Linked DNA regions of Homo sapiens: region 1 is linked to region 2. The links come from fine-mapping of genetic effects on gene expression. A gene starts in region 2. The other region holds a variant in brackets. All regions are shown on one strand. Distances are from middle to middle. Region 1 overlaps MORN1 (MORN repeat containing 1). Region 2 holds the start of PRKCZ-AS1 (PRKCZ antisense RNA 1).

The links. PIP is the estimated chance that this variant, and not a neighbour inherited with it, causes the effect.
Region 1: its variant is the best candidate, but not a certain one, in a credible set for the expression of PRKCZ-AS1 in whole blood (INTERVAL, PIP 0.56).

The regions. Positions count from the first base shown.
Region 1 is chr1:2,322,022-2,327,380 of GRCh38, reverse strand. MORN1 (MORN repeat containing 1) reads left to right here. Exons shown (of 14, transcript NM_024848.3): 13 at 3,238-3,284. Among named protein-coding and RNA genes, the nearest start is that of MORN1, 67 kb to the left of the region's middle. RefSeq lists a silencer at 4,810-5,015 and an enhancer at 4,672-5,279. The variant G/AGAAGGAAGG (reference allele first, on the strand shown) is at 2,268.
Region 2 is chr1:2,181,152-2,186,510 of GRCh38, reverse strand. It overlaps PRKCZ-AS1 (PRKCZ antisense RNA 1), which reads left to right and starts at 2,636. Exons shown (of 2, transcript NR_146290.1): 1 at 2,636-2,940; 2 at 3,770-4,717. It overlaps PRKCZ (protein kinase C zeta), which reads right to left. Exons shown (of 18, transcript NM_002744.6): 17 at 1,813-1,928; 18 at 1,116-1,589. The coding sequence ends at 1,502. It also overlaps a transcript of FAAP20 not described here.

The sequences.
Region 1 (5,359 bases), 140 kb before region 2:
TGTATTTCTGTGTCTCTGTGTTTCTGTGTTTGTTTCTGTCTGTGTGTTTCTGTGTGTTTCTGTGTCTCTGTGTTTGTTTCTGTGTTTCTGTGTGTTTCTGTGTCTCTGTGTTTGTTTCTGTGTTTCTGTGTGTTTCTGTGTGTTTCTGTGTCTCTGTGTTTGTTTCTGTGTTTCTGTGTGTTTCTGTGTCTCTGTGTCTCTGTGTTTGTTTCTGTCTGTGTGTTTCTGTTTCTGTGTCTCTGTGTTTCTGTGTTTGTTTCTGTGTTTCTGTGTGTTTCTGTGTGTTTCTGTGTCTCTGTGTTTGTTTCTGTGTTTCTGTATTTCTGTGTCTCTGTGTTTCTGTCTTCGTTTCTGTCTTTCTGTGTGTTTCTGTGTGTTTCTGTGTCTCTGTGTGGGCGCCAGTGTGTCCACAGCGCGCGTCTGTGGGGACGACACAGGCCTCAGACGTCCAGCGCTGCAGAACAGCCACACACAGACCCTGGGTGAGGCCCGGGTCGCTGTGTCTTCACCCTGATCCCCAGACACCAACCCCGACGGGGAGGCCGAGACTGCCAGGCCGATGCCAGGCCAGGCCTCCGAAAGTCAGGAGGGAGCAGGATGTGTCTGCGCGGTGGTGGCAGCTGCTGCCTCAGGCAGAACTGGCAGGAGATGGCGCCGGGGTGGTGCGGACTTACTGGGGCCTCCAGAGGGCAGCCGGTGCCAGGGCCGTCATGGCCAGCGCGTGAGGGACAGGAGTGAGGGACCAGCACCCGCATGAAGGTGCAGTCCCAGGCACGCAGTGGGTGCCCAGACGCACCCCCAGTCCACCGCCCAGGGCTCCTGCACCACCTCCCCATGTGCGGTCCCTGTGGACACTGGCCTCGGGCCTGCTCGCCGTCTGTGGGGCACCGATGCCTGCAAATCTGCACCACCTCCTCCCTAGGCCGAGACTCCCGAGCTCCTTGCTGGCTCTGCCCGTTCTCTCAAAGCCCTGGGGGTTCTGTAAAAGCTCTCAGGATTCCTGTAATCCTGCCTCCTTTCTCTTAGGCTGGCAGCCTGGCAGACTAGTTCTTCTCGGTGCTGAATTATGTACCCCGCTTCCCCAACTCGCCCGCACTCCTGTGTCTTACGTGGGTCCTGGGGTCCGGCAAAGCCTGTTCTCCCCACTCGAAATGAAGTCATTTCAAAGTCTTGTCTTTCATTCTTTTTCACCCAGTTGCTGCCTGTAGGATTTAAGTTTGTCGACGGGTAGGAACCTGGAGAGTCAAGGAGCCCTTGGCTCTCTCCGAGCTCTGGGTGGGCTGTTGACCCCCTTGAGCCACAAGTGACAGGAACTGGCCAGCCACAGCGGGCAGGACGGCGGGAGGAGGCCGCGGGAGGGTGCCAGCCCAGCAGGCCTCCCCAGGCCCATTTGATGGGTAATTCCGGACACAGCCCAGCCCGGCACACCTGGGGCTTCACACAGAAAGAACATCTCAGCTGGGCACGGTGGCTCATGCCAGTAATCCCAACACTTTAGGAAGCCGAGGTGGGAAGATCATTTGAGCCCAGGAGTTTGAGACCAGCCTGGGCAACATAGTGAGACCCCATCCCCACACAAAAAAATTTAAAAAGTAGCTGAGCATGATGGCACGTGCCTGTAATCTTAGCTACTTGGGAGGTTGAGTCTGCAGTGAGCCATGATCAGGCCACAGCACTCCAGCCTGGGCAACAGAGTGAGACCCTGTCTCTATTGCTAAAAAAAAAAAAAAAAAAAAAATCAACAAAGGCCAGGTGCAGTGATCCCAGCACTTTGGGAGGCGGAGGTGGAAGGATTCTCCTGAGCCCAGGAGTTTGAGACCAACCTGGGCAACATAGTGAGACCTCCTCTCTAAAAATTTTTTTAATTATCTGGGCATGGTGGCACACTCCTGTGGTCCCATGGGCATGGTGGCACACTCCACACTCCTGTGGTCCCAGCTCCTTGGAAGGCTAAGGCGAGGGGATTGCTTGCTCGAGCCCAGGAGTTGGAGGCCGCAGTGAGCTGTGATTATGCCGCTGCACTCTAGCCTGGGTCACAGAGCCAGACTCTATCTAGAGAAAGAAAGGAGAGAAAAAGAGAGAGAGAGAGAGAGGAGAGAGAGAGAAAGAGAGGCAGAGAGAGAGAGGAGAGAGAGAGAGGAAGAAGGAACAAGAGAGAAAGAAAAGAAGAAAGAAAAAAAAGAAGGAAGTGAAGGAAGGGAAGGAAGGAAAGGAAGGAAGGGAGGGAAGGAAGGGAGGGAGGGAGGGAAGGAAGGAAGGGAAGGAAG[G/AGAAGGAAGG]GAAGGAAAGGGGAGAGAAAGAAGAAAGTAAGATGTATTTCCGAAGTGCATCTCACTGCCCGGGGAGGAGGGTGGGTGTCCACACAGAGCCAGCCCCTCGTCCTTGCAGCAGGAGCATCGGAGGCACCTGCCGGGCCCAGCTTCCTCACGTGCAGGGACTGCCTCCTCCCCGCCAGGGCCATGGCCACGTCCTCAGGGCCCACCTGCTTCCCTGACCCAGATCCTGCCTGGCCATGGCCCTGCCCCAGCCCGTGGGTGCCCCGAGGCGCTGTCCAGGCAGGAGGAACAGGCCCATCACTTGTTGCAGTTCAGAAACCCTGGTGGGTGGTGGGCCCCCCCAGAGACTGCCTCAGGGCAGGAGCTGCACCCCTCAGGGAGCCAGGGCAGTGAGTGTCTCCACGGGGAGGCCCCGGCAGGACCCCTGGGCCCCTCCCATCCTCACTGCTACCTCTCCTTTCCCAGTCATGGCACTCCCAGGTGACACTGGGCCTCTGTTCCTCCAAGGGGGCACCATACCACCGCCGGGCCTCCTGGTCCCTCTTGCTGAGACTTCCGCCGCTCCTAAGTCGCTCCCTGCAGGCTCCAGCCTCGCCGTCTCTCAGGGGCTCAGGGTCTTTCCCGCCCTCCGGGATCTTCTCAGTTGCACCCTGGGAGGCCTCCGCCTTGTCAGAAGACTGTGGAAATGGGGTGGTCGGTCCCACTCCTGCTCCAAGGCCATAAGCACATCAAGAATTTAGACAAAGAGGATTTGCACAGGGCAGCCCACGGTTCCGAGGTGCAGAGAGCTGGGTGCAGGCTGCCAGAGGACTCTCCCCGTCCTGCCCATGGCCCCGAGGTGGGGTTCGCAGGCCTCTGCTGTGCTGGGGCCCTGAATCTGCCCTGGAGCCACTAGCCCTGGTTCAGGTCAGGGATGCCATGTCGTCGGGGCCCAGGCAGGGCATTCAGGGGCCTCACTGTGTCGTCTCCACAGGCCTGAGGGGAGAGCCACGGAGGAGCAGGCTGCGGCAGCACACCTAGGTAGGTGGACAGGGCCCAAGTCCATCGCCGGCTGTGCCACTGTCTGGAGAGGCGAGGCCGCAGCCCAGGGCTGGAGGTGGGGTTGGGGGAACTCGGCCCGGGGCCCCCAGAGGTAGGTGGCAGTGGGTGGGGGACTGGGGAGCAGCCAGGCCCTCCCAGGGACCTGAATGGGAAGGGGGCTGGTGGCTTGGGGGCTGGGGACGGTCCAGAAAGATTTGAAGCTGGGCCGACACAGCCCTTGATGTGGGGAATGTCCTAGAAAGGAGGAAGCCACGGGGGCAGGGAGCACGGGGACTCGGAGGCCTTGGGGTCCAAGGGGAGCCGAGGGGAGCTGTCAAGGCCCACAGTGGCTGAACCATGAGGAGCTGCTCCCCAGCAAGGCCGGCTGCAGGGCTTGGTGGGCCTGGGCTGGGCGGAAGGCTCCTCCCAGCGTGGGGGCTGCTGTGGGGACAGCAAGGAGGGGTGCAGCGAGGGCCTGGAGAAGGCTCAGGTGCAGACCCTCAGCCGTGGGGCCTCCTCCAGTCGCCCCACAGCCTGGGCCTGGCACCCCCCCACCAAGCCAGAGGGGCCGAATGCCAGGGCACCTCAGCTACACAAAGGCTCGGACCCCTAGCAGGACCTGGGCACCGCGGCTGACTGGCTGCCTGACGGAGAATGGAGCCTCTCTGTCACCTGGGCCAACATGAATGACCCTTCGTCTGGTGTCTCTGGGGTTCTGGCTGGAGAGCCAAAGGCTGGAAGGTCTGGACCCGCTGCTCACTGGGGTCTGGATGCCACCGTGGAGCTGCCTCTGGCGCAGCGGGAGAACAAGCAGAGCCACCCTGGTCGTGGGGACGGCACCCGTGTGGCCGGGGCTGTAGCCAGTGAGGCCTTGGTGACGGGAGCGGCTGGAGTGCCACGCGGTGTCCCCCGTGGTCCCACAGCAGCCCTCACACCATCAACCGGTCCACCGCGTCCCAGCCATCCCAGGAGGGGGCGGGGACATCTCTGCAGTGACAGGAATCGGCTAGGCGCTGGCACCTGTGCGCAGCCGCTCGGCCAGGGTTTATGTGCTCGGCGGAGACAGCCCTGGGGGTGAGGAGCGAAGGGAGATCCGATTCAGGGGCCACTTGGGGCTAAGCCATGTACGTATGGCCGAGGCCCTAAGTGAGAGCTGGCCCAGGGCTAGATCACGTGGCCGTCGAGGCCCGGCCTGCCGCACGGTGGCCACCAGCCAGAGCCCTTGCCGCCCACCCTTCCCATCCGCCGGGACGCCAGCCTCAGGAGTGGGGTCAGATGGGGCCTGTGGCCGGGCTCCTCAGCCACTGCCCACTGAGCTCTCGGCCCCCCGGCCAGCGCCTTGGCCACCACTGGTATAGCTGGATTCCTGGGAACACCTAGAAACCGGGCTGCTTGGAAACACTGTGGCGTTGCCATGTGGGGCTCTTCCTCCGCCCGCCAGGGAGGCTGTCCCCGGTGCCCGGTGCTGTGGCCCACACCCGCCAGGTTGCAGAACGTGTGTCCCCCTGGCGAGGCCCCCCAGAACCGTGTTTTTTTTTTTCTAAAGGAGCTGACTCGGGGCCAAGCACATTCCTCCCGGCCCCCGAGGCTTGCTCTTGTCCAGCCCTGGGAACGCACAGGCGGCCGAGCCCGTGGCCTGGCCGAGGAGGCCGCCGCTCTGCGAGGGGAGCGCTGTTTTCCAGGCCGGCGTCTGGAATGTTGCTCTGCCTTGCGGTGTGAGCCGACTCCTGCCCCCATTTCAGCTGCGGCCGCATTCCTGGTGTGAGCCCGGGCCAGCCGAGGCGCTTTTTCCACGCTCCGGTGCCAGCCCCGGCAGGCTCAGGGGAGGGGAGAGGATGGTTTCTATGGCAACCTCACTTTTTGTTATTTCTTATTTTCTTTTTTATGGTTTCTCCAACTTTGAAGCTCTCCAGACAGTTTACAGACTGTGAAAGGAAAAGTACTTTTCCTTCTCTGCCGAGTGCCCCCAGCAGGGCCGCCCTCCAGCCCCACCCGGAGAGCCCCAGCGCGGGTGTGGGGAAGGGGCCAGGGCGGGGCTTCAAAAGCAAACCAGACACACCAGCCTTCAGAGGGTT
Region 2 (5,359 bases):
TGGCCGGGGGGGGGCGGGTGTCCAGGGTCTCGGGCCGGGGGGAATGGGCCGGCAGTATGCCCAGCGCTGGCATTCTTGTCCTGGCACCTGGGGCTTGGGTGTGAATCCACCATGTCGTGCTGAGCGCCAGGCACGGAGTGGCACCCTGAGAAACCTGAGTGTGTAGGGTGGGCCACGCTCACCTGCTGGGGATGACCTTGAGGCAAGGCAAGGCGCGGCACAGACCTCCTAACTTGGGGTTTTACGTCTCTCTTCCCCAAGCCACCAGCCGCACAATGGGGTGGAGCGGCCCCTGAGTCATGGAGGCCTGGGGTCTCTGCGCCTGGCCAAGAGGGCTGCGTGGCAATTTCCACACCTGTGCACCAGGCCTCACTCAGAGGCATGAGGTGGCGCGACCCCCTCTCCCAGGGAGCTCAGAAGACGGCTCTGCCACACCTGACACCTGGCAGCTGGCAGCCCTGCCTCTAGGAAGCCTCAGCTCTGGACAGCTGTGCCTTCACCTGAGGGGTGGGTGGACGGAGAGCGCGGGTGTGTTCCCGGGAGCAGGAGGTCCGCGCCGCTGGGAAGAGTGCCTGTGTTTCTGGGTGTTTGTAGGGTCATCACGTTCAACTTTAAGGCTGGGGTCCGTCACATGCACATCTTTTAGTTTTCCCTAACTCTCAGTGCTGTGTGACAGATAAGAATATCTTCCAAAAATCAAATGCGTCGCACGAGGCATCGTGCAGGCACTGCTTAGTGTGGTCAGAAATGATTTGTGCAGATTTAGTGTTCAGTTTTTTCTCTTTTTTGGTCTACTGTGCTTTGGTGGGCCACGTTTTAGAATCTCTATGATCCAATTTCCCCCATCGGTCCAGTGAGCTGGCTGGCCCAGCTGCCATCTGCTTAAGGTGTCACTTCACCCTAGACCACAGCGGCTGGGACACACTCTGCAGGAAGAACAACAGGAACTTACCGGGGTTTTTAGGAAACAATTCTTGATTGCGGTGTGTCCCCACAGGTACTTCAACTCCCGCCCCCACCTGTGTCCCGCTGGCTCCTAAGCTGCCCCCCTACGTGTGGGTTGCGTCTGAGATGTGGGGCAGGCGCCACTCACGGAAAAAAGGCATCAGAGGAGCTTCCACATCATCGGAACATTTTATTCCTCAGGACGCTACACGCTCACTTTCCTGGCGGAGCAGGTCAGTGCATCGAGTTCTGTTTCCGTGGAAAATGTGCACCTTGGAAACCGCATGACAGCCCCCTCGGCAGGGTCCCCGCGGATCCGCCGCGACGCAGGCACAGCAGCAAGTTCCTCCAGCACGAAGCTGGCCTGCCCGGGCCCAGGTGTGAGGGACTGTTCTGCTCCCAGCAGCGCCCGCTGACGCTTCCCTCTGCGGTCTCGGCGCAAGCGTCTGTCCCTGGCCGCCCTCGGAGCCGTGCCCAGCCTGGCATGCATATGCGGTGGTTAAGGATACAGTTAAAGGGTCAATCACGCGTGTCCACGACAGAGACGCACGCGGCCTCACACCGACTCCTCGGTGGACAGCAATAATGGGTTGATATACTCAAAGCCTTCGAACTCTGACTGGTCGATCCTCTTTATGGCATCCCTGTGGGCAAAGGTGGCAGGGGGGAGGGGGGTGACCGTGTGTTCATTCCCTTGGGGGAAGCGGAGTCACGTTCGCATAAGAATCCTCCCCCAACGCCCACTGGAGAGATGACACCAGGCGGGTGGGACTCAAGGGCAGGCTGGGTCACCAGCTGCCCAAGGTGCCGGCCTGCCATGGGGCTGCCCGAGGGGTGCTCCAGGGACCCGCACCCAGTGGGACTCACTCATCGTCTGGGGTCAGCTGCACGGGCTCGCTGGTGAACTGTGTGTCAAAGTTGTCCAGACCGTAGTCGTCTGTGATCTGTGGCTGGAATGGAGGGAGCGCCTGCTTCTTCTCCAGCTTGGAAAAACAATAGGAGAAGGGTCAGCTCCGCGCGGGCATCATCCCTACCAGATTGAGTGTTTTGCACGCACTTCAATCACAAAATGAAACAGTGAGAAAGTCAGCATTTCAATCTGCCTAGTATTTGACTGCCAAGTGTTTTTTCTTACAACACAAAATCTAGAAAATATCCAAAGTCAGAAAAATTGTTGTCGAGCTGAGAAATGCCAGTGTCGGCCATGCTGGCCACATGTGGGACGGAGCAGGATCCCCAGCCACCCATGCGAGGCCACCCCCTTCCTTGGGGGGGTCCTTGTTCAGAGGGGCACCGACAACTAACTGGCTGAACAAGCCGTCTCATGACGTCTTGGAACCCTGACCATAAAGGTGTAGGACCTGGCCACAGCACCCTGCCTGCGCTGGCACTGCACAGACCCGTCTGTCAGGAGCCTCCTGCCGGCCCATTTCTGCCTATCCAGGCATCGACTTCAGAATCTCAGGTGCTGCTTGGCAGGAAAATGCCCAGCAGGCGGGCCTGGGACTCGGTGATGCGCCTGTGCCGGGGAGGGCAGAACGCTGGTGCCTGGCACAGGTGCCACAACACATACGGGTGAGGACACTGAAAACCCCTCAGTTCCCCCGACTCATGGCCACTTGTCCCAGTGACACAGCCATGCTCTCCCACTCACCCACAATAGGGTCTGAATGTGCCCCCCAGATTCACAGTGAGAAACTCATTCCCCAGAGCAACAGTGTAGAGAGGTGGAACCTGATGGGAGCCCCGCCCTCACAGACAAACTCCTGTAGCTGTCAAGACAGCTTGGGCATGGATTCCTCTCTGCCTTCTGCCATGTGGACACGTGGCCTTCCTCCCCTCTCTCCTCCGGGGAATGCAGTGTTTGGGCGCCATCTTGGAAGCAGAGATCAGGCCTCACCAGACACCAAGCCTGCTGGCACCATGACCCTGGACTCCCAACCTCCACAGCTGGGAAAGAACTCTGCTCCCTAGAAATTACCCAGGCTCGCTCAGGTATTCTGTTACAGCAGCACCAAGAGACATTCACTCGCTTACTCCCTCACTCTCTAACCCACTCCCATTCACCCTCTCACTCCCTCTCTAACCCACTCCCATTCACCCTCTCACTCCCTCGCTAACCCACTCCCATTCACTCATTCACTCACTCACTCTCTAGCCCACTTTTTTTTTGAGATGGAGTCTTGCTCTGTTGCCCAGGCTGGAGTGCAGTGGCGCGATCTCGGCTCACTGCAACCTCTGACTCCGATTCAAGCTATTCTCCTGCCTCAGTCTCCTGAGTAGCCGGGACTACAGGCATGCACCACCATGCCCAGCTAATTTTGTTTTTTGTTTTTGTTTTGAGACTCGCTCTGTCTCCCAGGCTGAAGTGCAGTGGCACGATCTCGGCTCACTGCAAGCTCCACCTCCCAGGTTCACACCATTCTCCCGCCTCAGCCTTCTGAGTAGCTGGGAGTACAGGCGCCCGCCACCACGCCTGGCTAATTTTGTTTTTGTATTTTTAGTAGAGGCAGGGTTTCACCATGTTGACCAGGCTGCTCCCGAACTGCTGACCTCAGATCATCTGCCCTCCTCGGCCTCCCAAAGTGCTGGGATTACAGGCGTGAGCCACCGCGCCCGGCCCTCTTTAGCCCACTCATTCACTCACTCCCTCGCTCTCTAACCCACTCCTGCTCACTCACTCATTCACTGGCTCACTCACTCTCTAACCCACTCTCTCTCATTCCCTTGCTCGTTCTCTAGCCCACCCTCGCACACTCATTCACTGGCCCGCCCCTTAGGTGTGTGCTCCTGTACCAACACTGAAATCCAGCTGTCACAACAGGCACCCACTGACTCCAGCCTCATGGAACCACCATTCACCAGGCTTGAGGGGAGGATGTCACGGCGCGCTGCTCCCTTCGGTGCCAGCCAGGATGGGGCCGGGTGGGTGCAGCTGGTGAAAAGAAATGCAGCCCCCCAGCCCCTGCAGACCAAGCCGAACAGCCCAGCTCGCGGGTGGATCACAGGGCACCCAGCAGCCGCCTTCCCTCCGGAAGAGCCAAGAAGGCTTCCAAGACCAGAAATGCCCCCAGTGTGGCTGTGCCTGTCCCCGGTGCCCCGCCAGCTGGGGGGCAGCATACCCAAACAGATGCACCCTGCCCATGATGGCACCCCAGGGACCCCCATCCTCAGGACCCTCCAGTCGTTCAAGCTGGAATTGGCAGGTTTCTGCCTGTATAGGCATCGGCTTCAGAGTCTCAGGTGCTGCTTGGCAGGAAAATGCAGGGCAGGAGGGGCTGGGCCTCAGCTCGAGGCTCCCAGGTGCAGCCCCCCACTCCACTGCAGGGCCCAGGGGGGCCAAGAACAGCCACAACAACAACAAAAGCCAAACTGGGAACGGAATCGTGGAAAAAACCCTCATAGGCTTTTGGGAACTTACAAAGAAATGCCCACATCCATTCTACTAACATGGCATCTACTAACGTGGCATCTACTAGGATGCCACAAAACAGACAAATCCTTCCACGTAAGGCTGGACACGTGTCAGGGCGGTGTCTCAAAGCTGGGCCACAGGCAGCATCCACGGCCAGGCCACTGGGTGGAGGAGACGGTGCTGGGGAGGAGCCGGAGGGAGGGGCCGGGGCTGTTCCCTTAGGCAGAACGGCTCACCTGTGGTGTGCGCACAGCAGGATTGTGGGGACACAAGATGCCCCCTTCATTCATCAGTTACTTGTATTCTTTGTATGAAACACCTGCCGATAAAATGTGAAAAAGGGGCATTTCCTAAAGTACTTTCCCTACCTTAGTCCTGTGCTGCTTTACAAGGGTTTAATAAGCAGCAGGGGTGGGAACAGAGCAGGACCCAGCTGGAGCTGGCCCAGGGTCCTCCAGCCCCTGGCCCAGCCCGTTCTCTGCTCCGAGGGCTCAAGATTGCCTCAGTTTCCCTGACAGCATCCCCAGGGGCCAGCGTTACCTCCTCCTCTTGCTCAAAAGCCTTCAGTGCCCATCTCTGCAGCTGGCACGTGGGCTCCAGGTCGGGACCCATGGTGCCTGACACCTTTTCCCACCGCCGCCCCCTGCGCCCAACCCATGGACGTCCTGGCCTCTCAGAGCAGTGCGTTTGAATGCACGCTGGCCCCAGGTCGGACGCTGTGGCAGTAACAGGTGTTGCCCCTGTGGCTGCAACCACAGCAGTGACCTGAGATACAACAGGGGGCCCGTTCCGTGTCAATGGGGCTGGGGGCCCAAGGGCTCTAGTTCTGAAGGGACATCTGAGAAATAGCCTGGGGGAGGTGAGGGCTGGAGCCTGGGGAGGGCACAGCTGTGCAAAGGCCCCATAGTGGGTGTGTGCCTTGTGCGCTGGGGGCCACAGAGGGGCCCCATGAGACCCGAGTGAAGGGGCTGAGGGGGAGGAGGCTTTTGGACACAGGAC